Linked DNA regions of Homo sapiens. The protein of the gene in region 3 interacts with the protein of the main gene of each other region in a biochemical or structural test. Each region holds a gene or a part of one and is shown on either strand. Other genes may lie near its edges.

Region 1 (3,500 bases), about 54 Mb from region 3:
TTTGCGCATCTCGCCTTTTCTTTGTCCTGAAGGCAACTAATACTCTGTATTGAATCCCCTTCTCCTTGAAATAGCTAGAATGACATGTCTTCTTGACTGAACCATGACTGATAGGGTAGGCCTATTTTACAACTGAGAAAACTGAACATGAGAAAAAGGTAAATTGCTCAAAGTCAAGCAAGCAAGTGGCAGGACAAAAGAATTCACACCCAGGTTTATTTGACTTCAGAGGTAAAGAATCAAAGTTAAACATCTGTAACCTGGCTGGGCGTGGTGGCTCGCATTTATAATCCCAGCATTTTGGGAGGCCAAGGTGGGCAGACTGCTTGAACTCAGGAGTTGAAGAGAAACCTGTCTCTACTAAAAATACAAAAATTAGCTAGGTGTAGTGGCGCATGCCTGTAATCCCAGCTACTTGGGAGGCTGAAGCAGGAGAATCACTTGAACCTGGGAGGCACAGGTCGCAATGAGCTGAGATCATGCCACTGCACTCCAGCCTGGGTGACAGAGTGAGACTGTCTCAAAAAATATTTTTTTTAATCTAAAATAAGTTTTTTAAAAAATCCCTAACCTATGGTCCTAGGAATTCACACAAGAGAAATGGGTGTACATGTCCACAAGGCAATGTGTAGGTGCTTTTCATGGCAGCTTTATTCATAATAGCAAAAACACTGAAAATAACCCAAATACCTATCAACAGAAGAGATAAGCCAAATGTGACAGATGCATATAAATGGAATACGACTCAGTGGCAAAAAAGAACTACTGAATCTCACGCAACAAATACGGATGAATTTCACAGAGGTTAGGTTGAGTGAAAGATGACAGACATAAAATGTTGATTTTATTTATATATGGGTCCTCTCCCAAGTTCAAGCAAAAGTGTTCCACGGTGAGAGAAGTCAGAAGAGAAGTTCTCTTTTAGGTAGGTGTGGTAATCATTGGAAAAGTGGCAAGAGAGAACCTTCCAGAGTGATGGAAAATTCTAGTTTTTAATCTAGGTGGTAATCATGCAGGTGAATACATTCATGTAAAAATTCACCTACCTCTGGAACTAGAGAGTGATGGTGTTTACAAAATACTGTGAGTGTATTAAATGCCATTGAATTTTATACTTTAAAATGGTTAAAATGGTACACTTAATGTTATGTGTACTTTACCACAATAAATAAAATTCCCTGGCCAGGCACAATGGCTCACGCCTGTAATTCCAGCACTTTGGGAGGCTGAGGCAGGTGGATCACCCGAGATCAGGAGTTCGAGATCAGCCTGACCAACATGAAGAAACCTTGTCTCTACTAAAAAAAAAAAAAATACAAAATTAGCCGGGCATGGTGGTGCGCACCTGTAGTCCCAACTACTCGGGAGGCTGAGGCCGGAGAATTGCTTGAACCTGGAGGGCACAGGTTGTGGTGAGCCGAGATGGCACCACTGCACTTCAGCCTGGGCAACAAGAGTGAAACTCCATCTCAAAAAAAAAAAAAAAAAGAAATTCATCAAGCTCTCTACTTGAGATTTGTGTGTGTGTATATGTATATACATACATATAAATTCAACGAAATTGATAACACAGAAAAAGCTTCATTATCAATAAGCAGACTTGTAACAGAGGTCGTGCCACTGCTTCTACAGGAAAATTTTCTTCATGGAAACATACCAGGCAAATTTTTTTAGCTCTAAGTCTGGCAGATTGAGTCTACCTTTCCTGCCTCTTCCAGATCCTTCACTGCCCAAAGTCATCTGCCAAACTGTGCACTTAAATAGTATAAGTAGACTAAATATTTCTCTCAGACCTTTGATTAAAATTCAATTTAGGCTCAAAACGAACTTGGGGCCTCTTCCTTTCAATGTGTTGCAAACTTGGGGCTTCTTCATTTCAATGTGTTGCCACTTGCCCTTGTTTTTAGGCTTTAACAATAACACCAGAAGGAAACGCACAAATGTTTCCAGCTCCATTTCTGGAAAATTTCAGTGAGTGTCTAAGATGCCACAATGTCTCTCCTCTCTTAAAACTCACCCAGACACTAAACAGACCAGCCCAAGGAAGGCAAAGTGCTCTGCCTGAGGTGACGTTGAAAAACTCCAACATGCCTGAAGTTATGCTGAAACTCAGATGACAGCAGTGATTTTACACCAGTGAACAATGTGGTTTTTTGCAGCAGTGACCAGTAGGCTCATCTTCAACACATTTGTGAAGAACAAATCAGAAAGGGCTCCCAGCTGCAGGCCTGCCCCTCCTTCCAAGCGTATGTCACAGGCAATGAGGCCCGGGGAGAAGTCCATGGGGGTGGAGAGGAAGAGGAAGAGGAAGAAGGATTCTCAAGAAGCTCTGCAAGATGGTTGCAGTTGCTGGCTTAAGCTGCAAAGTAAGGAAGAGAATCCAGCACACGTGGTGCTGGTACATAATTTAAGCTGCAACTGAATAATAGATCTTTCCATCACTTTATGAGCAAAACAACTACCAGCCACTCTTGGACTCTGTCTTTTTAAAAAATGCTTTTCAGAGATAATCCACTGGATCTCTAAAAAAAAAAGAAAGCAAGCAAGCAAACACAAACGTAGTTTAAGGAGCACAAAAACATTTTAAGATGAGAAGAACCAATGGAAATAATTTAGAATGTTCTCTAGGCTTTATACTCAAACTTCAAAACCTTCAGAATCTTAAGCACAAAAGACTTTGAGATGATCAACTGTAACTACTCATTTTCTGATAAAGAAACTGAGAACTAGGCCAGGCGAGGTGGCTCATGCCTATAATCCCAGCACTTCGGGAGGCCAAGGCAGGCGGATCACGAGCTCAGGAGTTCGAGACCAGCCTGGCCAACATGGTGAAGCCCCGTCTCTACCAAAGATACAAAAAATTAGCAGGGTGTGGTGGCGTGTGCCTGTAATCCCAGCTACTTGGGAGGCTGAGGCAGGAGAATCGCTTGAACCTAGGAGGCAGACGTTGCAGTGAGCTGAGATCGGGCCATTGCACTCCAGCCTCAGCGATAGGGCTAGACTCCACCTCAAAAAAAAAAAAAAAAAAAAAAAAAAGAAATTGCAAACTAGAGTCACAAGACAGCAAAAGCCACCCAGCTAATCAGTGGTGCAGCTAATGCTGCTTCCATGCCATTACAAAAATGGTCTAGATGAAATTCTATAATTTTTTTTGGACAAAATTCTCTGGATGAAATTCGCAATTCTAACAAACGATCATCTACTCACTATATAAATGTCAGGAATCCACTGTCCTAATTTCTCAATTAGTCTCTTATTCCTACTAGCTTATACAACAAGCCTGCCCCAAATCAAGTCAGTCCAACGTTTAGTGGATGTGTTGGTGCTCTGTTAGCTTCTGGGGTTACCAAGATGACTCAGACCAGGGAGGGGCTCAGGGCTGATGGGAAGTGATAAGGGCTAGAATAAATACTAGCATGTGCATCCTCACCAATCACAGGCAAGAACACAATTGATTCAGCCAGACTGCAGAAGGGTAACGCAGAAACCAGGCTGCTAAA
Region 2 (3,500 bases), on a different chromosome or scaffold from region 3:
AAGAAGCTACAGCAAGTTATCAAGAAGATCTAGCTGAGATAATTGATGAAAATGGCTAAACAACAGATTTTCAATTCAGACAAAATAGCCTTACATCAGAAGAAAATGCTAGAGAGAAATCAATGCCTCATTTCAAAGTTTCAAAGGACAGGCTGACGCTTCTTAGAGGCTAATGGGTGAATGTAGCTGGTGACTTTACGTTGAAGCCAATGCTCATTTACCCTTCCAAAAATCCTAGGGTCTTTAAGAATTATGCTAAATCTATTCTGTCCATGCTCTAAAAGTAGGTCAACAAAAGCCTGGGTGACAGCACATCCGTTTACAGCATGGTTTACTGAATATTTTAAGCTCACTGTTGAGAACTACTACTCAGAAAAAAAAAAAAAAGATTCCTTTCCAAATATTACTACTCATTGACAATGCACCTAGTCACCCAAGAGCTCCAATGAACATATACAAGGAGATTAAAGTTGTTTTCATGCCTGCTAATAGTACATCCATTCTGCAGGCCACAGATGAAGGAGTAACTTCAACTTTCAAGCCTTATTATTTAAGAAATAAATTTTGTAAGACTATATCTGCCACAGTGATTCCCTGATAGATCTGGCCAAAGTAAATTGAAAACCTCCTGGAAAGAACTCATCATTCTATATGCCATTAAGAACATTCTTGATTCACAGGAGGAGGTCAAAATATCAACATTAACGGGAGTTTGGAAGACATTCATTCCAACTTTCATGGATGACTTTGAGGGATTCAAGTCTTCAGTGGAAGAAGTAACTTCAGATGGAATGGAAATAGCAAGAGATCTAGAACTAGAAGTGAAGCCTGAAGATGTGACTGAATTGCTGCAATCTCATGATAAAACTGGAATGAATGAGGAGTTGCTTCTTATGGATGAGCAAAGAAAGTGGTTTCTTCAGATGAAATCTACTTCCAGTGAAGATGTTGTGAACATTGTTTGAAATGGCAACAAAGGGTTTAGAATATTACATACACTTAGTTGATAAAGCAGCAGCAGGGTTTGAGAAAACCAATTCCAATTTTGAAAGAAGTTGTACTGTGGGTAAAATGCTGTCAAACAGCATCTCATGCTACAGAGAAATCTCTCATAAAATAAAGAGTCAATTGATGTGGCAAACTTCATTGTTGTCCTATTTTAACAAATTGCCTTAGACATCCCAACCTTCAGCAATCATCACCCTGATCAGTTAGCAGCCATCAACAACGAAGCAAGATCTTCCACCAGCAAAAAGATTACTACTCGCTAAAGGCTCATATGATCATTAGCATTTTTTAGTTGTAAAGCATTTTTACTTAAAGTACGTACATTGTTTTTAGACATAATACGATCGCAAACCTAATGGACTATAGTATAGTATATACTGTACTGTATACAACAAATATTTTGGTTTCCCAGTGCATATATACCGTAGTATACAATATATTGTATATATGCATCAGAAAACCAGAATATTTGTGTAGCTTGCTTCATTGTGATAATAGGCCTTATTTCAGTGGTCTGGAACCTAACCCGCAATATCTCTGAGATATACCTGTACATATTCCCCCTCTTATTGATTCTGAAAAAAAAATGATTTTAAGAACTTAAGAAAAACTAGAGATGAAAACAGAGTATACCCGATAACAAAAAGCAAATGTAAATTAGTAAGATACTATAAAACAAGAAGTGGAGCCATAATGTGCAGGAAACAACAAAAGAAGAAAACTTTGAATAGGGAAAAAATAAGCAGGAGAGTCATAAGGTCCTCTTCCCCAGAGGAAAAAAAAAAAAAAGAAATGACACTTTTATGAAGTATACAGTCAACCAAAAGCAAAGAGATAATTTAAGAACTGTGAGTCCAGGAAACTGTAATCTCAGTTTCAAGGGTGCCTATGAGATATATGGCAATATCATGTCTTAAGATTCTAAGGCCAGGCGCACTGGCTCATGCCTGTAATCCCAGCACTTTGGGAGGCCAAGGTGGGTGGATAACGAGGTCAGGAGTTCGAGATCAGCCTGGCCAACATGGTGAAACCCTGTTTCTACTAAAAATACAAAAATTAGCCAGGTGTGGTGGCACGCACCTGTAATCCCAGCTACTCAGAAAGCTGAGTCAAGAGAATTGCACGAACCCCGGAGGCGGAGGTTCCAGTGAGCCGAGATCACACTACTGCACTCCCACCTGGGCTACAGAGCAAGACTCTGTCTCCCAAAAAAAAAAAAAAAGATTCCAATTATATAACATTCTTCAGCTTCCTTTGAAAGCTATAATGTCAAAACATATACATATAAAAAAGATAGGACTTAGCTTTCAGTACATGATAAAAATGTTTATATATATATTATATCACTGAGAACCACTGCAAAAAAATAATTCAAAGGAAATAAAGGGTCATATAAATAAATAATTTCAGACAAACTTCTACACCAGTTTAAAAGAAGCTCCGAAGACAATAGGACAATTTTTTTTTTTTTGAGACGAAGTCTCTCTCTGTCGCCAAGTTGGAGTGCAGCGGCACAGTCTTACCTCACTGCAACCTCCACCTCCTGGGTTCAAGCAATTCTCCTGCGTCAGCCTCCCAAGTAGCTGGGATTACAGGCACGCACCACTATGCCCAGCTAATTTTTGTATTTTTAGTAGAGATGGGGTTTCACCACGTTGGCCAGGCTGGTCTTGAACTCCTGACCTCATGATCCGCCCGCCTCGGCCTCCCAAAGTGCTGGGATTACAGGCGTGAGCCACCGCGCCTGGCAATAGGACAATTTTTTAAAACACTGAAATGAAATGAACATTTATCTCAAAGTAATAAAGGCATTGATTTCTTCCACATATTTAATGACAATGAGAACAAAAAGCCATTCAAAAAAGAAGCTGCATTGTACTAGAAAATTCTGTTAAAGCATATTTTTATCTTTAAAACAGCAACTTTCTGCTGTAAAACATGGCAAATGACGTACCTATCATTAACTTTTATTTCTTATGTTAACACAGTAGGAAATCATATCAGATCAATTCAAGAAGACTTGTTAAAACAGACCCTTATAACACACTATGGTCTTGCATCATATCAGAGAATACTAATACAACTTATCCTGAATTGGTCCTAAATTTTCACAAATTAAAATATGTCCAAGATTGTCCCAAGGGCTCACCTGGGAGCAAATAAAGTTACTACTATAGATAAGAAAATCTTGAATGAAAAGCAACTGCTGAGGAAAAAAAACCTTCTATGAGGAAACAGAAGAGTCTTCTGTTGATAAAACTGAGATCTGTAAAAATGCGAAGAGACTAGAGTGAGAGAAGTAGAAAGTAATGTCATAAAGCAAACGAGCAGTTAATATGGGGTTTGAGGCACAGTAGTTTCAGCTTATCCAAGGGCAGTCCAGAATGGCACCTAGAAATGGGCTTAGTGAGATGTCACACCCATTCCCAATTCCCACCATGGTTGCATGGTATCAGTAAAAGAATCTCCTCTCTCTTTGACAAAAATATACT
Region 3 (3,500 bases):
CGCGCCTGCCCCTTCTGCCCCGCGCCTGGCCTCCCCGCCCTCGGGCACCCGGCGCCCCTGCCGCCTGCCCCGCCGCTCGCTCACCCGTTGACCAGGTCGTGGCACGTGCCCCCATGTGCGCACGGCTGGCTCTGGCACTCGTCGAGGTCCAGCTGGCAACGGGTGCCCCCGTAGCCTGGCGCGCACACACAGCGGAAGGAGCCCACGCCGTCCAGGCACGAGCCCCCGTGCAGGCAGGGCGCTGAGGCGCACTCGTCCACCTCCATCTCGCAGGTCACGCCTGGACAGGGCAGGGGACACACAGGGTGCAGGATGGACACCCAGAGCAGGGCGGAAGAGGTCGCGCCAGGCCTGCTCCAGAGTTAGAGACTCGTGGATTCATTCATTCAGAGCCGGATGGTGGTGGTGGTGGTTGGGGGGTGGGGGACGGGTCATGCCAGCAACCGCAGGGAGAGAAACGAGACAGACAGCCCTGCCTTCATGGGGCTCACAGCAGTCTAGGCCAGGACATGGTGGGGGGTGATTCAGCCAGTAATTACCTAAATGAGCTAGGTGATGTTGCCAAGTTCAACAAGGAAAGGGGTTGGGTCTTGGGAAAGCAATAGCCGGGGTCTGCTCTGTTCAGGGAAGGCTTCCTAGAAGAAGAGGCTTTTGAAGGATTCAGATAGGGGACTGTGGGCAGCAGTTGGATTCCAAAGAGACTGCAGCAAGAGGCAAGTTCCACTAGGGGCAGGGCCATGATGCCCTAGGCGGGGTTATTGGAGGGTTGGAAGCAAGGGAGAGGGTGGCGGAGGTGAGTCGGGTGGGAGGTGTCAGTGCCTTGGGGACCAGGTAACCTCTGGGTCCATCCTGAAAGTTTCAGACAGGTAAGTGACTTGGTCCCACCTACATTTTAGTTAGTTGTTTTGGGTTTGTTTTTGTTTTTTATTTTTTTGAGACAGAGTCTCACTCTGTCGCCCAGGCTGGAGTGCAGTGCTGCAATCTTAGCCCACTGCAATCTCTGCCCACTGGGTTCAAGTGATTCTTGTGCCTCAGATTGCAGAGTAGCTGGGATTACAGGTGCATGCCACCTCACCCGGCTAATTTTTGTATTTTTTTGTAGAAAAGGCGTTTCACCATGTTGGCCAGGTTGGTCTCCAACTCCTGGCCTCAAGTGATCCACCCACCTCAGCCTCCCGAAGTGCTGGGATTACAGGCGTGAGCCACCACACCTGGCCCTACCTACTTTTTAGAAGGTCCACTCTGGTGGCTTTCAGATCCCAGAGAGGCAGGAGATGCTTGAGTAGGGTAATCACTCCTCCCAGTGTCCCTGCACTGTCCTGGTTTTAGAACTGAAAGTACCAAGTCCCCAGAACCCTCGCAGTCCTGGGCGAATCACGACAGCTGAGTGGCTCTCCCAGGGTGATGGTGAAGAGGAAGGGAGATGGGGAGTCCCAGGGTTTCAGATACGCTGCCTGAGATCATCCTGGACTCACGTGTCACTGTAGACTCCAGCAGGCCCTGCCCCCTAAGTGGGTTTGGTCAAGCGGGGGCCAGAGGCCCAGCTGACTCCAGCTGGAACCCTCCCCCTTCTCAGTTCATTGAGCACAAAACATGGCCCCACCTTCCCATGACCCTTCCCTCCTCCCTCCCCATCCCCACTCCCACCCTCTGTGCCAGGGGGAGCCAGGCCTTGTCTGGAAATCCCAAACTCCCCCACCCGGCTTGGAATGGAAAGAGGAGAGAATGAGTCACGGCAGATGCTGCCCCCACTCACATCCACAGCTTACCCAGGAAGAGTCACCCGAAGTGTGTGAGTGCTACACATCCGGATGCACAACCCACTGCCCGCACAACCCACTGCCCGCACAACCCACTGCCCACACAACCCACTGCCCGAACAACCCACTGCCCACACATGCACTCAGACTGCAGACACCCCCAGGTACTGGCAGATCTTTACAGATGCAAAACAGAACTTGGAACTAGGAGACACATGGACGAATGTGACCTGCACTGGCATGTACACTAATACACCCAGACGCTGAGACACTGGAACGATGAGAAAGATGCATGGAACCAGCTTCCCAAATCTCTCTTCATCAGCTGCCATCTCTTCGCTGTAGGCCCCCTGCCCTGGAACCCAGCCCCCCAATCTGTACCTCTTGCTCTGAAGTGACTTCAAACTGCCCTCTGCCCTCAGAGTACAGTTGTCTGAATTCAGGATTGAAGTAGGATCCAGAGCATCTACACTGCAGACTCAGACTCTGCCCTGGACTCAGCTTCGCTCCCAGACTGCGCCCCTTCTGTCCCCAGCTGCGCCCTCCTTCCCGACTTCAGGCCTCTCTGGGAAGCCGCTCCAGGATGTTCTCGGCTCAGACCATGGGTGGGCCTGGGACGGGCCACACTCTGGAGAAGGTACCCTTAGTGCCAGTCACTTTTCTGAGCACTTACGTATATATTATCCCACTCCAGACAGCAGCGATCCCTGGGGTATGTCAACACTACAGTTTGAACGAGACCTTGTATGTCTATGCTAGAACTCTGGGGGAGACCCAGAGGCCAGGGGTCCACATTGCACTCCAGACCACATCAGGAGTGTTCAAATGAGCTGATGGTGACTGTCGTGTAGACAGTGTCTACATGACAGCTTGGCACAGGCCTGAAGTGCTAGAAAGACTATCTGGGCATCCTCACTAAAGTCACGCCAGGCAGGTTCACACTGCCAGAGATGAATGAGGGGTATTCCACCCCCGCAGCCAAACTGAACTCTAGGCTGGACTGAAATCACATTTACCGAGTGCCTGAGATGCGCCACACACCACGCCAGCACCCGCACATACATACTCTCACCCAGAGCTGCCAGGCATCAGTTCTGTAGTCAGACCAAGTGGATATACCCTAGAGCTGCCCGGATGCCTGGGGGCGTCCCTACACGAAAGGCAAAGCTGAAGCCATGATGCTTACACTCTGAGCAGCTGATGCGATCTGCATTACAGACCTCCTCCCAGGGCGGCCCAGGCTGTTACCTGCATAGCCAAGGGGGCAATGGCACTCGTAGCGATCGGCCAGGTTGCGGCAGGTGGCCCCATGGTGGCACGGCCGGGATGCACACTCATCGATGTCCAGCTCGCAGCGTGGGCCCTGGAAACCCGGCACGCAGTAGCAGCGGAAGCCGGTGGGATCTGGACCCTGGGGCACACACAGAGCGCCGTGGTGGCATGGCTGGGTGGCACAGCCCCGGGGCTCCATGGGCCCACAGGTATAGCCACCACTCTCGGTAGCCTGGCACTCGGTCCCTGGAGCGCACGGGTCTGAGGCACAGGCACTGGGGGGCTCTGAAGGCACCGTCCCTGTAGAAAGAAGAAACTGGCTGGGCAGGGTGGGCAGAGGTTACAAGGACAATCTCCTCCCCACCCTCTCAGGCCCACCCCAGACCCCAAAAGCAACGTGGGTCTCTGCATGCACAGTATGGACAGAGGGCCAGGGGTCTGCAAGCCAGGTCCCAGTAAGCTGCACAC
Region 4 (3,500 bases), on a different chromosome or scaffold from region 3:
AAGTATTTCTTTGTTTTCAATTTTATTATCAAAGTACATAAGACCAATATTTTATAAGCTGTTTTTTAAAGTACTGGATGTGAAACATGGCTTACATACTAGCAAACACATGCAATTTGAATATTTCACACCTTAATAATTCATGCAAATGGTGAGAGACAGTATATACTTTCATTACCTCTTTTTAGCCTAGAAAGCCACTCAACTACCCTATAGTGGGTTCTGGTTATAATTAATAAAATGCTGAAATACAGGAAATCATTTCCACACCAAAAAAAAAATCATTAAGTAACTATTGTGTAGAAAAATAATCAACCAAATGAATGACGGTTAAAAGTATATACTGTCAACATGAAAAAGTATTAGGGACTGATATTAACAGGATGGACCTTTTGAGCAGCCATACTCATCTGTAATCAAGATTACTTTCATATTAGACAGCAGTAAAAAAAGAAAGTTAGAAAAGTAATTTTAATTTTTAAGGTGCTACAACTGATATTATGTACCCTCCCCTTCTCCCATGCCCAAGTCTGTTTTAAAACATCACATGCTTGTGCAGTTCACTTAATAAAACCAAGAATGTAATATAAAACAGCAAAAGAAAAATTAGTATTATTTTTCAGGTGATCATTGAAAATGTTTCCTTATTTCTTCCGTTCACCAAGTGCTGGTGATAAACAATGACATGACCCAGATCAGTATTGGTGACAAAGAATAAAAATGGAAATAAAGCTAATGATAATTTAGCATTACTGAAAAATATTATTTTAGTGCTCATGTTAAAACCAATTACTAAACAGAAGGTCAAAATACAAGTTTTCCCCCATTTAACTAGATATTTACTTCTTACAAAAAATACATATACATATACATATGTATCATGTACACAAATAATATTTTTATTTTATTAAAATTTTATAAATTAACCTCTACATATATAGTATGATTTTATTTTTCAAGTACAGAATTTTACTTGTCTCTCCCTGATTTTAAAATAACGATCATATAACTTCAGGTTTTTATAACATATCACTCAGAATCCCTCCACCCCTGCAGAGGATGTATTACTCGAGATTACAAAAGAACAAGTAACTTAAAACACTTACGGTAACTACTTTCACTATCGCTGGCATTAGAAGTTACATGCTCTGAAATTGCAGGACAATGAAAAAAAATAAAACAGTGTCATGAGTTTAAAAAGCAAATAATCAAAATGAAATGTTGAGATATAAGCCATATATAACAAAATAATTTTTTAAAAGCATTTTCTTTTTCTTTGAAACGTTTAAGTTTTTCAAATAATAAATATATATTAGCAAAGGAAAACTCCTGTAATTAAGGACAATGCCTTATTTTTGTACAACACAGTTTATGAACAAATCTATTATAAATAGCAAGTAGAATATGACAAAAAGGGCTAAGTGACCCTGAATTAGTCCAAATGTAGACATAAAACTCAAAGGAGAAAATACTGTTGGCACTATTTCAGTTTTTGAAACAGCGTTAACTGGCAAAGGGGACAAACTATATTTAAACAAATAGATGCCCATTTTAATGACGGGATGTCTTTGTAATTAAAAATAAATAGATGATCTTATTTTCAATCCAGCTTTGCTCCTGTTTCTGAAGATGAAAATCCATGTTTCTGAGATCATATAGATAAAGGATTGTAAAGGTCATAAATTCAGATGTCTCAGCTGGAAGGGAAGGCACTGATGGTGGCAATTGCATTTTAAAACCAACTAATATTAGAAGTCATAAATTCAGATGTCTCAGCTGGAAGGGAAGGCACCGATGGTGGCAATTGCATTTTAAAACCAACTAATATTTCTTAGAAACTCTGCTTTGATAAGACTGGCACTGGCTGGCTTTTGCAAAACATAAAAAAGACAATGAGAACAAACACACCCAGCCAGAAACTGCCTGGCCCTCCTTAAAAGTGACTCCATTTCACGACTTTATTGTTTGGTAAAACCATAGGCACTCTTCTCATCCATGTAAATGTCATCTCAAGTTTTCTCTCAATAAATATCTCCCTTCAATTAAACAAAGACTAATACTTTTATTTTTAAAAAATAAAAATAAAACTTTCAATGAGACAGGGAAATCTGAATTTTTATTTTAACTTTTTTTTTTTTTTTTAATTAAAGGGACAGGGCCTCACTCTGTTGCTCAGGTGGGAGTGAGGTGGTATGACTATAGCTCACTGCAGCCTCGCCCTCCTCTCCTGGGCTTCTGTGATCCTCCCATCTTAGCCCAGAGTGGCTGGGACTACAGGTATGTACCACCATGCCCTGCTAAAATTTTGTTTTTTTTTTTTAATAAAAGAGACAAGTCTCAACTATGTTGCCCACACTGGTCTCAAACTCCTGGCCTCAAGGGATCCTCCCATCTCAGCTTCCCAAAGTGCTGGGATTACAGGTGTGAATCACCACACCCAGCTGGAAATTTCATTTTTTTTTTTTTTTTTTTTTTGAGATAGTCTCCCTTTGTTGCCCAGGCTGGAGTGCAGTGGCACGATCTCAGCTCACTGCAACCTCTGCCTCCTAGGTTTAAGCGATTCTATTCTTGTGTCTCAGACACCTGACTACCTGGCACTGCAGGTATATAGCACCATGCCCAACTAATTTTTCTATTTTTAGTAGAGACTGGTTTCACCATGTTGGCCAGGCTGATATTGAACCTCTGAGCTCACGTGATCTGTCTGCCTTGGCCTCCCAAAGTGCTGGGATTACAGGTGTGAGCCACCGCACCTGGCCAAATGGTAGGTTTTTTAAAAGCTCATATTAAAATATTTCTTTCCATGTCACCACATGGGCTTGACAGCAATAATTTAAAATTGGTGTATAATATTCTATTAGATTGATACATTATTTACCTCGCTATTTATTAGATATTTTTATTTGCTTTAAACTGTTTTTCACAAGTATCAACAATTATGAATGTCTTCATTTATATATACCTTTTAACTTTCTGTCCTATTTCCTTAAATTTCATACCCAGAAACACGCCACATTAAAAAAAGAGTTATTCTGTTTACATTAGTATTGGTATTACCCTCTGCAATCTCTAGTTTGTAAACTAAAGAAAAATTAGTTATTGCAATGGGGTGAAGGGAGGGGAGTGTAAGTGGGAGTACAGAAGAAACAGAATTGGCAAATGTTCAGTTGACAATTATGAAAGCTGGATAAACAAATACCTGCAGGGTTTATTTTTACTACTTTTCTACTATTGAATATATCTGATATTTATATAATAAAAAGTTTAAGTTACCAAAATCTCTTCACTGTCTTTTTTTTTTTTTTTTGAGATTTCTCCTACTCACCTCAAACCCTCTAAGACTGCCAAAAGCTACGCCACAATCAAATTCTGCAGGTTCTTTCAAATATCATTTCACTTAGCTCTTCTACAATAAAGCCTCACTACTCAAAGTATGGTCCTTAGAATAGCGTCATCATAATTGTTTGGAATGTTATTAGAAAAATAAAATGTTTTTCTTC
Region 5 (3,500 bases), on a different chromosome or scaffold from region 3:
GACATAAGGTTGATCTTTAAAATATATTTTAAAATTACAGCTGGGCACGGTGGCTCATGCCTGTCATCCTAGCACTTTGGGAGGCTGAGGCGGGCGGATCCCCTGAGGTCAGGGGTTCGAGACCAGCCTGGCCAACATGGTGAAACCCTATCTCTACTAAAAATACAAAATTAGCTGGGCATGGTGGCACACACCTGTTATTCCAGCTACTCAGCAGGCTGAGGCAGGAGAATTGCCTGAACCCGCGAGGTGGAGGTTGCAGCGAGTTGAGATCACACTACTGCACTCCAGCCTGGGCAACAAGAGTGAGACTCTGTGTCAAAGAAAATAGAACTGTATATATATAATTACTAAATTATATATATAAATTATATAAATAGATATTATACAAATATAATTATACATATTATATACAATTATATATAAATATATAATTATACATATAATTACATATATAATTTTTTAAAAATAATATGTATATATGTACAAATTACTTAAGAAAGATACAGGGCTGGGCACGGTGGCTCACATCTGTAATCCCAGAACTTTGGGAGGCTGAGGCTGGAGGATAGTTTGAGTCTAGGAGTTCGAGACCAGCCTGGGCAACATAGCAAGACCCTCATCTCTACAAAAAATAAAAAAATTAGCCGGTCATGGTGTCACATGCCTGTAGTCGCAGCTACTTGGGAGGCTGAGGTGACAGGATTGCTTGAACCCAGGAGGCTGAGGCTGCAGTGAGCTATGATGGCACCATTGCACTCCAGCCTGGGCAACAGAGCAAGACAAAATTACAGCAAACTTCCACATAAAATGAGTGAGGAGACACGGTGACCCGTCCCCGGCGCACAGACGGCCTTCTGCTTGTACCGGAGCTGGGTCCTTTCCCCACTAGGTCATGCTCTTCGCCAGTCTAAGACCTCCCCGGGCTCAGAACACTCGGAACAGGGCCCGGTAAAAGGCCGTCCTTTAAGAAGGAGGAGAAACATTTTTCAAAGATCGAGAACTCTCCTACGAAGAGCCAAGAGCCTCTGCGTGCCTCAGGGACTCAAACGGGGATCACGGTGCCTGTTCACTGGCAAACAGGGACCCCCATGTCAGCTCGCAGAGGCTCTCCGCAGGGTATCAAGCTGCTTCTTGAAACGCGTCTGAGAATTGAAGTCAGGAGTCTTGGAAGGCGGTGTGAGGTATCGTTATTATTCTGCTGAACGTTTCCCCCGGAACCAACGATACCTGAATCCCTTTAAAAATAGGCCATTTCTTCTTAGAAGATTTCCACGAATCACATAATCCTTACGCAGAGGCAGGCAACGAAGCACTAATGTCAATAACGTTACAGTTTTACTTCACAGCAGCATTTATCCACTGACATAGCAATTTACTAAACCGCAGAAAACGCCGGCACAGGGCCTCTGCTTGCCCTTGGATTTTTTTTTTTTTTTTTTTTTTTTTTTGAGATGGAGTCTCACTCTGTCACCCAGGCTGGAGTGCAGCGGCGCGATCTCGGCTCACTGCAGCCTCCGCCTCCCGGGTTCACGCCACTCTCCTGCCTCAGCCTCCCGAGTAGCTGGGACTACAGGTGCCCACCACCACGCCTGGCTAATTTTTTTGTATTTTTAGTAGAGAGAGGGTTTCACCGTGTTAGCCAGGATGGTCTCGATCTCCTGACCTCTTGATCCGCCTGCCTCGGCCTCCCAAAGTGGTGGGATTACAGGCGTGAGCCACCGCGCCCAGCCCTCCTTGGATTTTTTAAATTTCAGAGACAAGGTCTCCTTCTGTCGCCCAGGCTGGAGTGCAGTGGTGCAATCACAGCTCACTGCAGCCTCTACCTCCTGAGCTCAAGTGATCCTCCCACCTCAGCCTCCTGAGGAGCTAGGCCCACAGGCATGACCACTACACCAGCTAACTTTTACATTTTTTGTAGAGATGGGGTCTTACTATGTTGCCCAGGCTGGTCTCAAACAACTAGGCTCAAGCCATCCTCCTGCCTCAGCCTCCCAAAGTGCTGGGATGATAGACATGAGCCACTGTGCCCAGGCTGCTTCCAGATTTTTTTTTTTAAAGGGCCATCACCACCAAGACACGTATAAGAATGTTCACAGTGGTTTCATCATAACAGCCCCAAACTGCAAGCAACAGAAACATTTATCAACGGTCAGGTGGATAAGTAAATTGTGGTAATTTTTTTTTTTTTTTTTTTGAGACAGGTCTCACTCTGTCACCCAGGCTGGAGTGCAGTGGTGCGATCTTGGCTCACTGCAACCTCTGCTTTCTTGGGCTCAAGCAATTCTCCAGCCTCAGCCTCCCGAGTAGCTGGGATTATAGGCGCAAGCCACCAATGCTTGGCTAATTTTTGAATTTTTGTAGAGACGGTTACATCCTGTTGCCCAGGCTGGTCTTGAACTCCTGAGCTCAAAGCAATCTGCCTGCCTTGGCCTCCCAAAGTGCTGGGATTACAGGCATGAGACACAGCGCCTGCCCCTATTGCGGTAAATTTATGCCATGAAATACTGTGTAGCAATGAAAAAGAAACATTGAATGTGACTCCGTCCACGTCAAGTTCAAGGACAGGGATGGTGATAGAGGTTGGAAGGGTCCTCCCTTAGGGGACAGGGGAGGGGTAACGACTGGGAGGGGATATGGCACTTCCCCAGAACCTAGAAAGGACCCAAATCTTGATCTGGGTGATTGGCTCCAGAAGGGCATGTGAAGGCCCGTCAAGCTGTTTGTACGCTTAAGACTGTACTGTGTGTGTGTTATACCTTAATTTTTAAAAATTATTATTATTATTATTACTGATGGGCAATCAGTTTTACCTTTCTTTTTTATTTTATTTTTAGAGATGGGGTCTTGTTCTACTGCCCAGGCTGGAGTACAGTAGTGCAATCCTAGCTCACTGCAGCCTCAAACTCCTGGGCTCAAGTGATCCTCCCATCTCAGCCTCTGGAGGAGCTGGGACTACTACAGGTGTGTGTCACCATGCCTGGCTAATTTTTTAAAGTTTTTTTGTAGAGGTGGGATCTCACTATGTTGCCCAGGCTGGTCTCGAACTCCTAGGCTGAAGTGATCCTTCCACCTGGGCTTCCCAAAGTGTTGGGATCACAGGTGAGAGGTGCCACGCCTGGCCTATCAAACTTTTTGATGTTTGCCAGTCTGACAGGTGGAAAACGCTATGTCCCTGTTGTATTACTTCACATGGATTTAATTACAAACGAAGCATGCTGACTGACCTGCTCATATTCCGTGTGTTTGTACCCTTTCACCATTTTTTCCATTGGTTGAATTCTCTAATTTTGGGGTCTGGACACTCCCACTGAGGGTCCAGTCCTGTGCCATCCACTGTGCCGAAGGTGGCCATACTCACTCCCAACTGCAGCCGCCTCCACCCCGCAAGGACAGAGTTGCTAGCTTCGACAGAGACCCTCTGGCTCACAAGGCCTAAAATATTTACTATTTGGAGCTTTCGAGAAAAAGTGTGCCAGTTCCCATGTCTCATTGGTTTA
Region 6 (3,500 bases), on a different chromosome or scaffold from region 3:
CTGAGGCAGGAGAATGGCGTGAACCCGGAAGGCAGAGCTTGCAGTGAGCCGAGAACGTGCCACTGCACTCCAGCCTGGGCGACAGAGCAACCCTCTGTCTCAAAAAAAAAAAAAAAAAAAAAGAGTGAAAAAAAATAATGGAGTAAGGTAAGAGAGATAGGGAGTGCTGGGTAGGGGGCAGGGTGCAGGTTTGAGCTAAAACCTATAGATGGGCCAGGCACAGTGGCTCACACGTGTAATCCCAGCACTTTGGGAGGCCGAGGCAGGCGGATCACAAGGTCAGGAGTTCAAGACCAGCCTGACCAACATGATGAAACCCCATTTCTACTAAAAATACAAAAATTAGCCAAGCGTGGTGGCATGTGCCTGTAATCCCAGCTACTCAGGAGGCTGAGGCAGGAGAATAGCTTGAACCCGAGAGGCAGAGGTTGCAGTGAGCAAAGATCGCACCATTGCACTCCAGCCTGGGCGACAGAGCGAGACTCTGTCTCAAAAAAAAAGAAAAGAAAAAAAAACACCTAGAGATGAAGTGGGGAATCGTGAGGCTCCCTGGGGTTGAGGCATTCCAGGCAGAGCGAACTACCTCTGCAAAGGTCCTGAGGTCGGGCTGAGTCTGGTGCGTTTACAGAACAGGGAGGAGGCCTGTGTAGCAGGGGCCAAGTGAGCACTGGACATGAGGGCAGTGGGGGGACAGGGTCCCGATCCTGCAGGGTCTGGGGAGTCATGGTGAGGACTTGAACCTTTGCCCTGAGTGAGGTGAGTGAATGGCAGGGCTCTAAGCAGAGGAGGGACATGAGCTGACTTCGGTTTTAACAGAAACCCTCTGGCTGCTGTGAAGGGACTAGATTGAAGGGGATGAGCTGGGAAGCCGGGGGACCAAAGAGGAGGTGACAGCTATTGCTATCCAGATAGGAAATGATAGTGGCTGGCCCAGGGTGTTGACTCTGGAGGGGTGAGAAGGGATTGGATTCCGGATATGTTTTGAAACAACAGGATTTGCTGGTGGATTGGATGTGGGTGACTTGAGGAAGAAAGCTAAGAGTGGCTGCAAGGTTTTCAGTCTTAGCACCTGAAAGGACAGAGCTGCTGTTTGCTGCGGTGGTGGGGAGGGACCGTGGGCTGGGAGGAGTCTGTTGGTGAGGAGATCAGGAGCTTGGGTTGGAGCGTTTGGAGTCTGAGATGCCCGTGAGACAGCCAGCTGGGTGTGGGTATTTGAATATAGGGGCCCAGAGCTCAGGGCGGAGGATGGGGCCCCAGGCATAAACGTGGGCGTCGACAGCAGAAAGGCAGTGAATGAAGCTGGTCACTAGTTGAGAGGGAGTAGTCAGAGGTGAGAAGAGGTTCAAAGACCGAGCCTTGGCAGTGAAGTAAGCAAAGACTTAACTCCTGCACGCCTCCTGGAGTTGTTTTTCCCTGATTGGATTCAGCTTTCCCCAACTCCTGGCGTTCAAAGTCCACCAGTGTGAGTCTTACACTCCCACTGAGTGTGGGGTCCACCTGGCTCGCATCGTTTACCTGATTTTTTTTTTTATAGATCCAATCCCTTTTAAACTTTAGCCTCATCATAAGTGGTTCTCTCTGTAGAATCACAGCTTTGATGTGCTGGTTGCATTTCTTTCCCGCATATACGTGAAAAGAAACACGCATCTATGCATAAACACGAGGGGACTATCCCTTCCCAGCTCCAGCCACTTTTGCTGGCCCCAAACCGTTCACTGAGCCTTTGAACGGAATTAGAAAATGGCGCCCCCTCCTGGCGTGGGGAGGAAGTTCTGCTGAATTTCAGTTTCCTCACCTTCCTTGCGGTTTGCAGTTGTGCAGTGCACAACCTGTACCTCTGTATGAAGCAGATTTGGGTTTACCTCAAATAGGGAAGAGCTGGGCGAGTCCACGTGAAGTTCCTGGCATATACGGGGTGCCATTCTTGTCATTAGTATTGTTGCGGTTCTATGGGATAGTGGAGCAGGGAGACCCTCCCCGCCAGGGTCCCCCTCCTTGAGCCTCTGTATCTCCCCAGGTGCGGCAGAAGATGACAGACCTTACCTAGCACCCCCAGCCATGAAATTCAGCCGCAGCCTGTCTGTGCCTGGTTCGGAGGACATTCCCCCGCCACCCACCACGTCCCCACCGGAGCCTCCCTACAGCACACCTCCAGTCCCCTCCTCCTCAGGGCGCCTCACCCCCTCCCCTCGGGGAGGGCCCTTCAACCCTGGCTCTGGTGGCCCCCTCCCCGCCTCCTCCCCTGCATCCTTTGACGGGCCCTCCCCTCCCGACACTCGCGTGGGGAGCCGCGAGAAGAGCCTGTACCACAGTGGGCCCCTGCCCCCGGCCCACCACCACCCGCCCCACCACCACCACCACCACGCCCCGCCCCCTCAGCCCCACCACCACCACGCCCACCCCCCTCATCCTCCCGAGATGGAGACAGGCGGCTCTCCCGACGACCCTCCACCCCGCCTGGCTCTGGGGCCCCAGCCCAGCCTGCGAGGCTGGAGGGGCGGCGGGCCCAGCCCGACCCCGGGGGCCCCGTCCCCATCGCACCACGGCAGCGCGGGCGGGGGCGGCGGCTCCTCCCAGGGCCCGGCTCTACGCTATTTCCAGCTGCCCCCGCGGGCGGCCAGCGCAGCCATGTACGTGCCCGCCCGCTCGGGCCGCGGCCGCAAGGGCCCGCTGGTCAAGCAGACCAAGGTGGAAGGCGAGCCCCAGAAGGGCGGCGGCCTCCCGCCCGCGCCGTCGCCCACGTCCCCGGCCTCCCCGCAGCCGCCGCCCGCCGTGGCCGCGCCCTCGGAGAAGAACTCCATCCCCATCCCCACCATCATCATCAAGGCCCCGTCCACCAGTAGCAGCGGCCGCAGCAGCCAGGGCAGCAGCACCGAGGCGGAGCCCCCCACCCAGCCGGAGCCCACGGGAGGCGGCGGCGGCGGCGGCTCCTCGCCCAGCCCCGCCCCGGCCATGTCACCCGTGCCCCCGTCCCCCTCGCCCGTGCCCACCCCCGCCTCGCCCAGCGGCCCGGCCACGCTGGACTTCACGAGCCAGTTCGGGGCCGCCCTGGTGGGGGCGGCCCGGAGGGAGGGGGGCTGGCAGAATGAGGCGCGCCGGCGCTCCACGCTGTTCCTGTCCACCGACGCGGGGGACGAGGACGGCGGGGACGGCGGGCTGGGCACAGGGGCGGCCCCGGGCCCGCGGCTGCGCCACTCCAAATCCATCGACGAGGGCATGTTCTCCGCCGAGCCCTACCTCCGACTGGAGTCTGCGGGCAGCGGCGCGGGCTACGGCGGCTACGGGGCCGGTAGCCGAGCCTACGGGGGTGGCGGGGGCAGCAGCGCCTTCACCAGCTTCCTGCCCCCGCGACCCCTGGTGCACCCGCTGACCGGCAAGGCCCTGGATCCCGCCTCCCCGCTGGGGCTGGCCCTGGCCGCCCGCGAGCGAGCGCTGAAGGAGTCCTCGGAGGGCGGCGGGGCCCCCCAGCCGCCTCCCAGGCCCCCATCGCCCCGCTACGA
Region 7 (3,500 bases), on a different chromosome or scaffold from region 3:
CCTCCTGAGCAGCTGGGATTATAGGCGTGTACCACCATGCCCAGCTATTTTTTGTATTTCCAACAGAGACGGGGTTTCACCATGTTGGCCAGACTGGTCTCAAACTCCTGACCTCAGGTGATCTGCCCGCCTCAGTCTCCCAAAGTGCTGGGATTACAGGTGTGAGCCACTGCACCTGGCCACCTACTGTCTGTTTTTGTAAACAAAGTTTTACTGGAACACAGCCATGTGCTTTTGTTTACATATTGCCTATGGTTGTTTTCATGAGACAACAGCAGAGCTAAGTGCTTGTGATAGACTGTATGGCCTTAAAGCCTCAAATGTGTACTATCTGGTCCTTTACAGAAAAGGCTTGCCCACCCCTCACCTAAGTGAGTGTAACTGAAGTATATGCCAATAAGCTCTAGTTCTGTGGATACTAATAGGACCAGTATCCTGCAAAACACACTTTAGGAAATGTTTTTCTAGATGAGCCAGGAACACTGGTTTTAATATTCTCTCTCCCTACCCCCCTTTCTTTTCTCCCTTCCTTCCCTTTTTTTCCCTCTCTCTCTCAATTTCTTTGCTTCCTTCTTTCTTTGAGAAAGAACAAATTTATGCTACTCTCTTCTGTATACATGAGCCTAAACTAATGGGGAATCCCCCTTTCCTGCTAGCCTGTTTGTTAGAACATAAAGTGCTCGTGGTCATCAAAATGTGGACATTTTAAGAGAAGCCCTTTCTCTAGGCACATCAAAAGCTGAAGAACCGGCGTTACTATTTATTTATTTATTGAGACAGGGTCTCACTCTGTTGCCCAGGCTGGAGTGCAGTAGCAAGATCTCAGCTCACTGCAACTTCCAGCTCCCGGGTTCCAAGCGATTTTCATGCCTCAGCCACCCTAATAGCTGGGACTACAGGTGTGTGCCACCATGCCCGGCTAACTTTTGTATTTTTAGTAGAGATGGGGTTTCACCACATTGGCCAGGCTGGTCTCAAACTCCTGGTCTCATGTGATCCACCCATCTCGGCCTCCCAAAGTGCTGGGATTATAGGTGTGAGCCACCGCGCCCAGCCAAGAACTTACATAACATATTGATGTTGTACTATCTTCAGTCATCTCAGTAGTTAGATATATGTTATATACACATACAGGGTCAAATATTTCAAAGACTAGTCATGATTGACATCATCAAAGGTAAGTTTTAAAACCAAACTAGTTAACTGGCCATTTAATAACATGGAAGTTCAGTTGTTACGTGGTTAAGAAGAAGCTAAATGTTAGCTAAGCTTGCTGTACTCATGATCTAGACATAAGGAGAATTAAAAGAACACTTCAAAGTGTTTTACTAGAAAACCCCAGTAGTGCCAAATGAGACACTATTGGATACATTTCTTTTCTTGTGTAAATCAGACAAGGTTTTGGGATGAAGGTTTTCTCATGAAGCCTCCTGGCTCTCTGAGGTGTACAGATAACTGTAAGTGGTATTGACATTGCTTCAGGAAGGCATGTGAAGGCCCTATAGAATGGAGCCAATCTTCACATTTTCTCCTGTTGCTCTTAAAAAATAATTTTCCTTTAGCTCTTCCAACCCTGAGCTGCTAGAAAGCTTCTGGGGTTAAAATTTTATTTATTTTTTTTTGAGACGGAGTTTCACTCTTGTTGCCCAGGCTGGAGTGCAATGGCACGATCTCGGCTCACCACAACCTCCACCTCCGGATTCAACTGATTCTCCTGCTTCAGCCTGCTGAGTAGCTGGGATTACAGGCATGCACCACTATGCCTAGCTAATTTTGTATTTTTAGTAGAGACGGGGTTTCTCCATGTTGGTCAGGCTGGTCTCAAACTCCCGACCTCAGGTGATTCGCCCACCTCAGCCTCCCAAAGTGCTGGAATTACAGGCATGAGCCACCGCGCCTGGCCTAAAATTTTAAACTTTAGAATAATGATGATAATAATGAAATGATAGTGGTAGATAGCTTCTACTTATCCACCATCTGCTAAGTGCTTCATACACATGATCTCAAATCCTCTCTGCAATCCTGAATTACTTCATTTTACAATTGAGAAAATGAAGAGGGCAAGAGGTTAAGAATAAGATACGGAAAATAAGGAGAATTAAAAATCTTACAGATTTGAAAATCTTTACAGAAACAACTGTTAGCATATTGATTGGGTTTAAAAAGTGGTAAGAAATCAACAATTTAAATATTAACTAAGGGAAAAAAATTGTCATATCAGAAACTGTACAACTATGAAAACTTATTTTTCTGAAGAATAATTCATCTAGGTAATGTGTATGACATATTGTTAGAAAAATTGTTACAAACAGAATGGATAAAACTAATTTTATTTAAAACACACACACACACACACACACACACACACACACACACACACTTTATACACATATCTGTACTAAGACAAGCCTAGAAGGGTATACAACAGAGAAGCCTAGAAGGGTATACAACAAAATATTTATAGCACTTATTATAGGGAAAGAGGGGTTGGGATTACTGTTAACTCATTTTCCTCCTTGTTCTTTTTTTGATTTTACAAATTTCCTACAATGAACAGTTATACCTTATGTAATCAGAAAAAAATACATAAATTATAGAGTTAAAAAAGTGATAGGAAAAATATAATGAAAAGAGATTGAGACATTGCTTACGTGGAATAGGGTACGCAAACCGGTCTGGGTGCTTTGTGATGAGAGTGTTTTTTATGTGTCTTCTCCCAACACCATGTGCGCCTATGTCATTTAGAAAAAAAGAATGTTAAAACTGACAACTCTTAATAATGTTCACAAAATGTTTTGAAAGTGAGAATAAGCAACTCACTTACACAATCAAACTTACCTAATAAGACTAGTGTTTTCCTCTTGAATGCTGGCAGTTTTACTACTTCTTCATATGTGACAAGATCTAATTGATCAAACACTAAAACGCAAAGATTTAGAAGAAAGGTAAATTTGTAGAATGACTATTTCATGTACATAAATTATAATTTTACTGGCAAAACTACAGTTATATTAAAACCATGTCTTAAAAATATGAATCCAACTTATGATATATGGCTTACATGTAATTTAAGTCATATAGCATCTAGGGAGAAATTTTCATTTTTAAGCCCATGAAAATGCTCTTTAGAACCAGGGGCATCCAAAGATGCTGAACACATGCATTAAAATGTCCAAATCTAAAAGATACTACATATCTTTTCATGTAGTATCCAACAAATCATATGAATTAATTTGAAACCACATGCTGTTCATATTTTTCCAATTCTAAGAAGTCAGCAATACTAAAAAGAAAAAGTCTACAGACAGTGACCAACATGAATATAGCATGAATGCAACTAAAGTTAACCAGGAGAGGGGCCAGCTAGATCATTTCTAGAGATGGATGAGAAATGCATGGACAGCTGGTCTTTAACTTCATGGTTCTTTCTTTCAACAGAGTTGATGAAGGTGGCATGCTAGATTCTAAGGCAAGTTCTGTAACTATTGCACAAGCTTATC

Evidence for each region.
Region 1: the proteins of CRB2 (region 3) and TJP2 interact in a test that uses a peptide from one of them, tested with the Homo sapiens proteins (one large-scale study listed by IntAct).
Region 2: the proteins of CRB2 (region 3) and DLG2 interact in a test that uses a peptide from one of them, tested with the Homo sapiens proteins (one large-scale study listed by IntAct).
Region 4: the proteins of CRB2 (region 3) and DLG1 interact in a test that uses a peptide from one of them, tested with the Homo sapiens proteins (one large-scale study listed by IntAct).
Region 5: the proteins of CRB2 (region 3) and CARD11 interact in a test that uses a peptide from one of them, tested with the Homo sapiens proteins (one large-scale study listed by IntAct).
Region 6: the proteins of CRB2 (region 3) and SHANK1 interact in a test that uses a peptide from one of them, tested with the Homo sapiens proteins (one large-scale study listed by IntAct).
Region 7: the proteins of CRB2 (region 3) and CASK interact in a test that uses a peptide from one of them, tested with the Homo sapiens proteins (one large-scale study listed by IntAct).

Annotation. Positions count from the first base shown.
Region 1 is NC_000009.12:69,180,777-69,184,276, reverse strand, and holds part of TJP2 (tight junction protein 2), read right to left. Parts: intron 1-3,500. UniProt on the Homo sapiens protein: Plays a role in tight junctions and adherens junctions. Acts as a positive regulator of RANKL-induced osteoclast differentiation, potentially via mediating downstream transcriptional activity.
Region 2 is NC_000011.10:85,620,845-85,624,344, forward strand, and holds part of DLG2 (disks large homolog 2), read right to left. Parts: intron 1-3,500. UniProt on the Homo sapiens protein: Required for perception of chronic pain through NMDA receptor signaling. Regulates surface expression of NMDA receptors in dorsal horn neurons of the spinal cord.
Region 3 is NC_000009.12:123,362,697-123,366,196, reverse strand, and holds part of CRB2 (protein crumbs homolog 2 precursor), read right to left. Parts: intron 3,333-3,500; coding exon 3,009-3,332; intron 281-3,008; coding exon 85-280; intron 1-84. UniProt on the Homo sapiens protein: Apical polarity protein that plays a central role during the epithelial-to-mesenchymal transition (EMT) at gastrulation, when newly specified mesodermal cells move inside the embryo.
Region 4 is NC_000003.12:197,068,113-197,071,612, forward strand, and holds part of DLG1 (disks large homolog 1), read right to left. Parts: intron 1,149-3,500; coding exon 1,107-1,148; intron 426-1,106; coding exon of another isoform or gene 390-425; intron 1-389. UniProt on the Homo sapiens protein: Essential multidomain scaffolding protein required for normal development. Recruits channels, receptors and signaling molecules to discrete plasma membrane domains in polarized cells.
Region 5 is NC_000007.14:3,033,868-3,037,367, forward strand, and holds part of CARD11 (caspase recruitment domain-containing protein 11), read right to left. Parts: intron 1-3,500. UniProt on the Homo sapiens protein: Adapter protein that plays a key role in adaptive immune response by transducing the activation of NF-kappa-B downstream of T-cell receptor (TCR) and B-cell receptor (BCR) engagement.
Region 6 is NC_000019.10:50,667,803-50,671,302, reverse strand, and holds part of SHANK1 (SH3 and multiple ankyrin repeat domains protein 1), read left to right. Parts: intron 1-2,017; coding exon 2,018-3,500. UniProt on the Homo sapiens protein: Seems to be an adapter protein in the postsynaptic density (PSD) of excitatory synapses that interconnects receptors of the postsynaptic membrane including NMDA-type and metabotropic glutamate receptors via complexes with GKAP/PSD-95 and Homer, respectively, and the actin-based cytoskeleton.
Region 7 is NC_000023.11:41,532,055-41,535,554, forward strand, and holds part of CASK (peripheral plasma membrane protein CASK), read right to left. Parts: intron 2,920-3,500; coding exon 2,839-2,919; intron 2,733-2,838; coding exon 2,652-2,732; intron 1-2,651. UniProt on the Homo sapiens protein: Multidomain scaffolding Mg(2+)-independent protein kinase that catalyzes the phosphotransfer from ATP to proteins such as NRXN1, and plays a role in synaptic transmembrane protein anchoring and ion channel trafficking.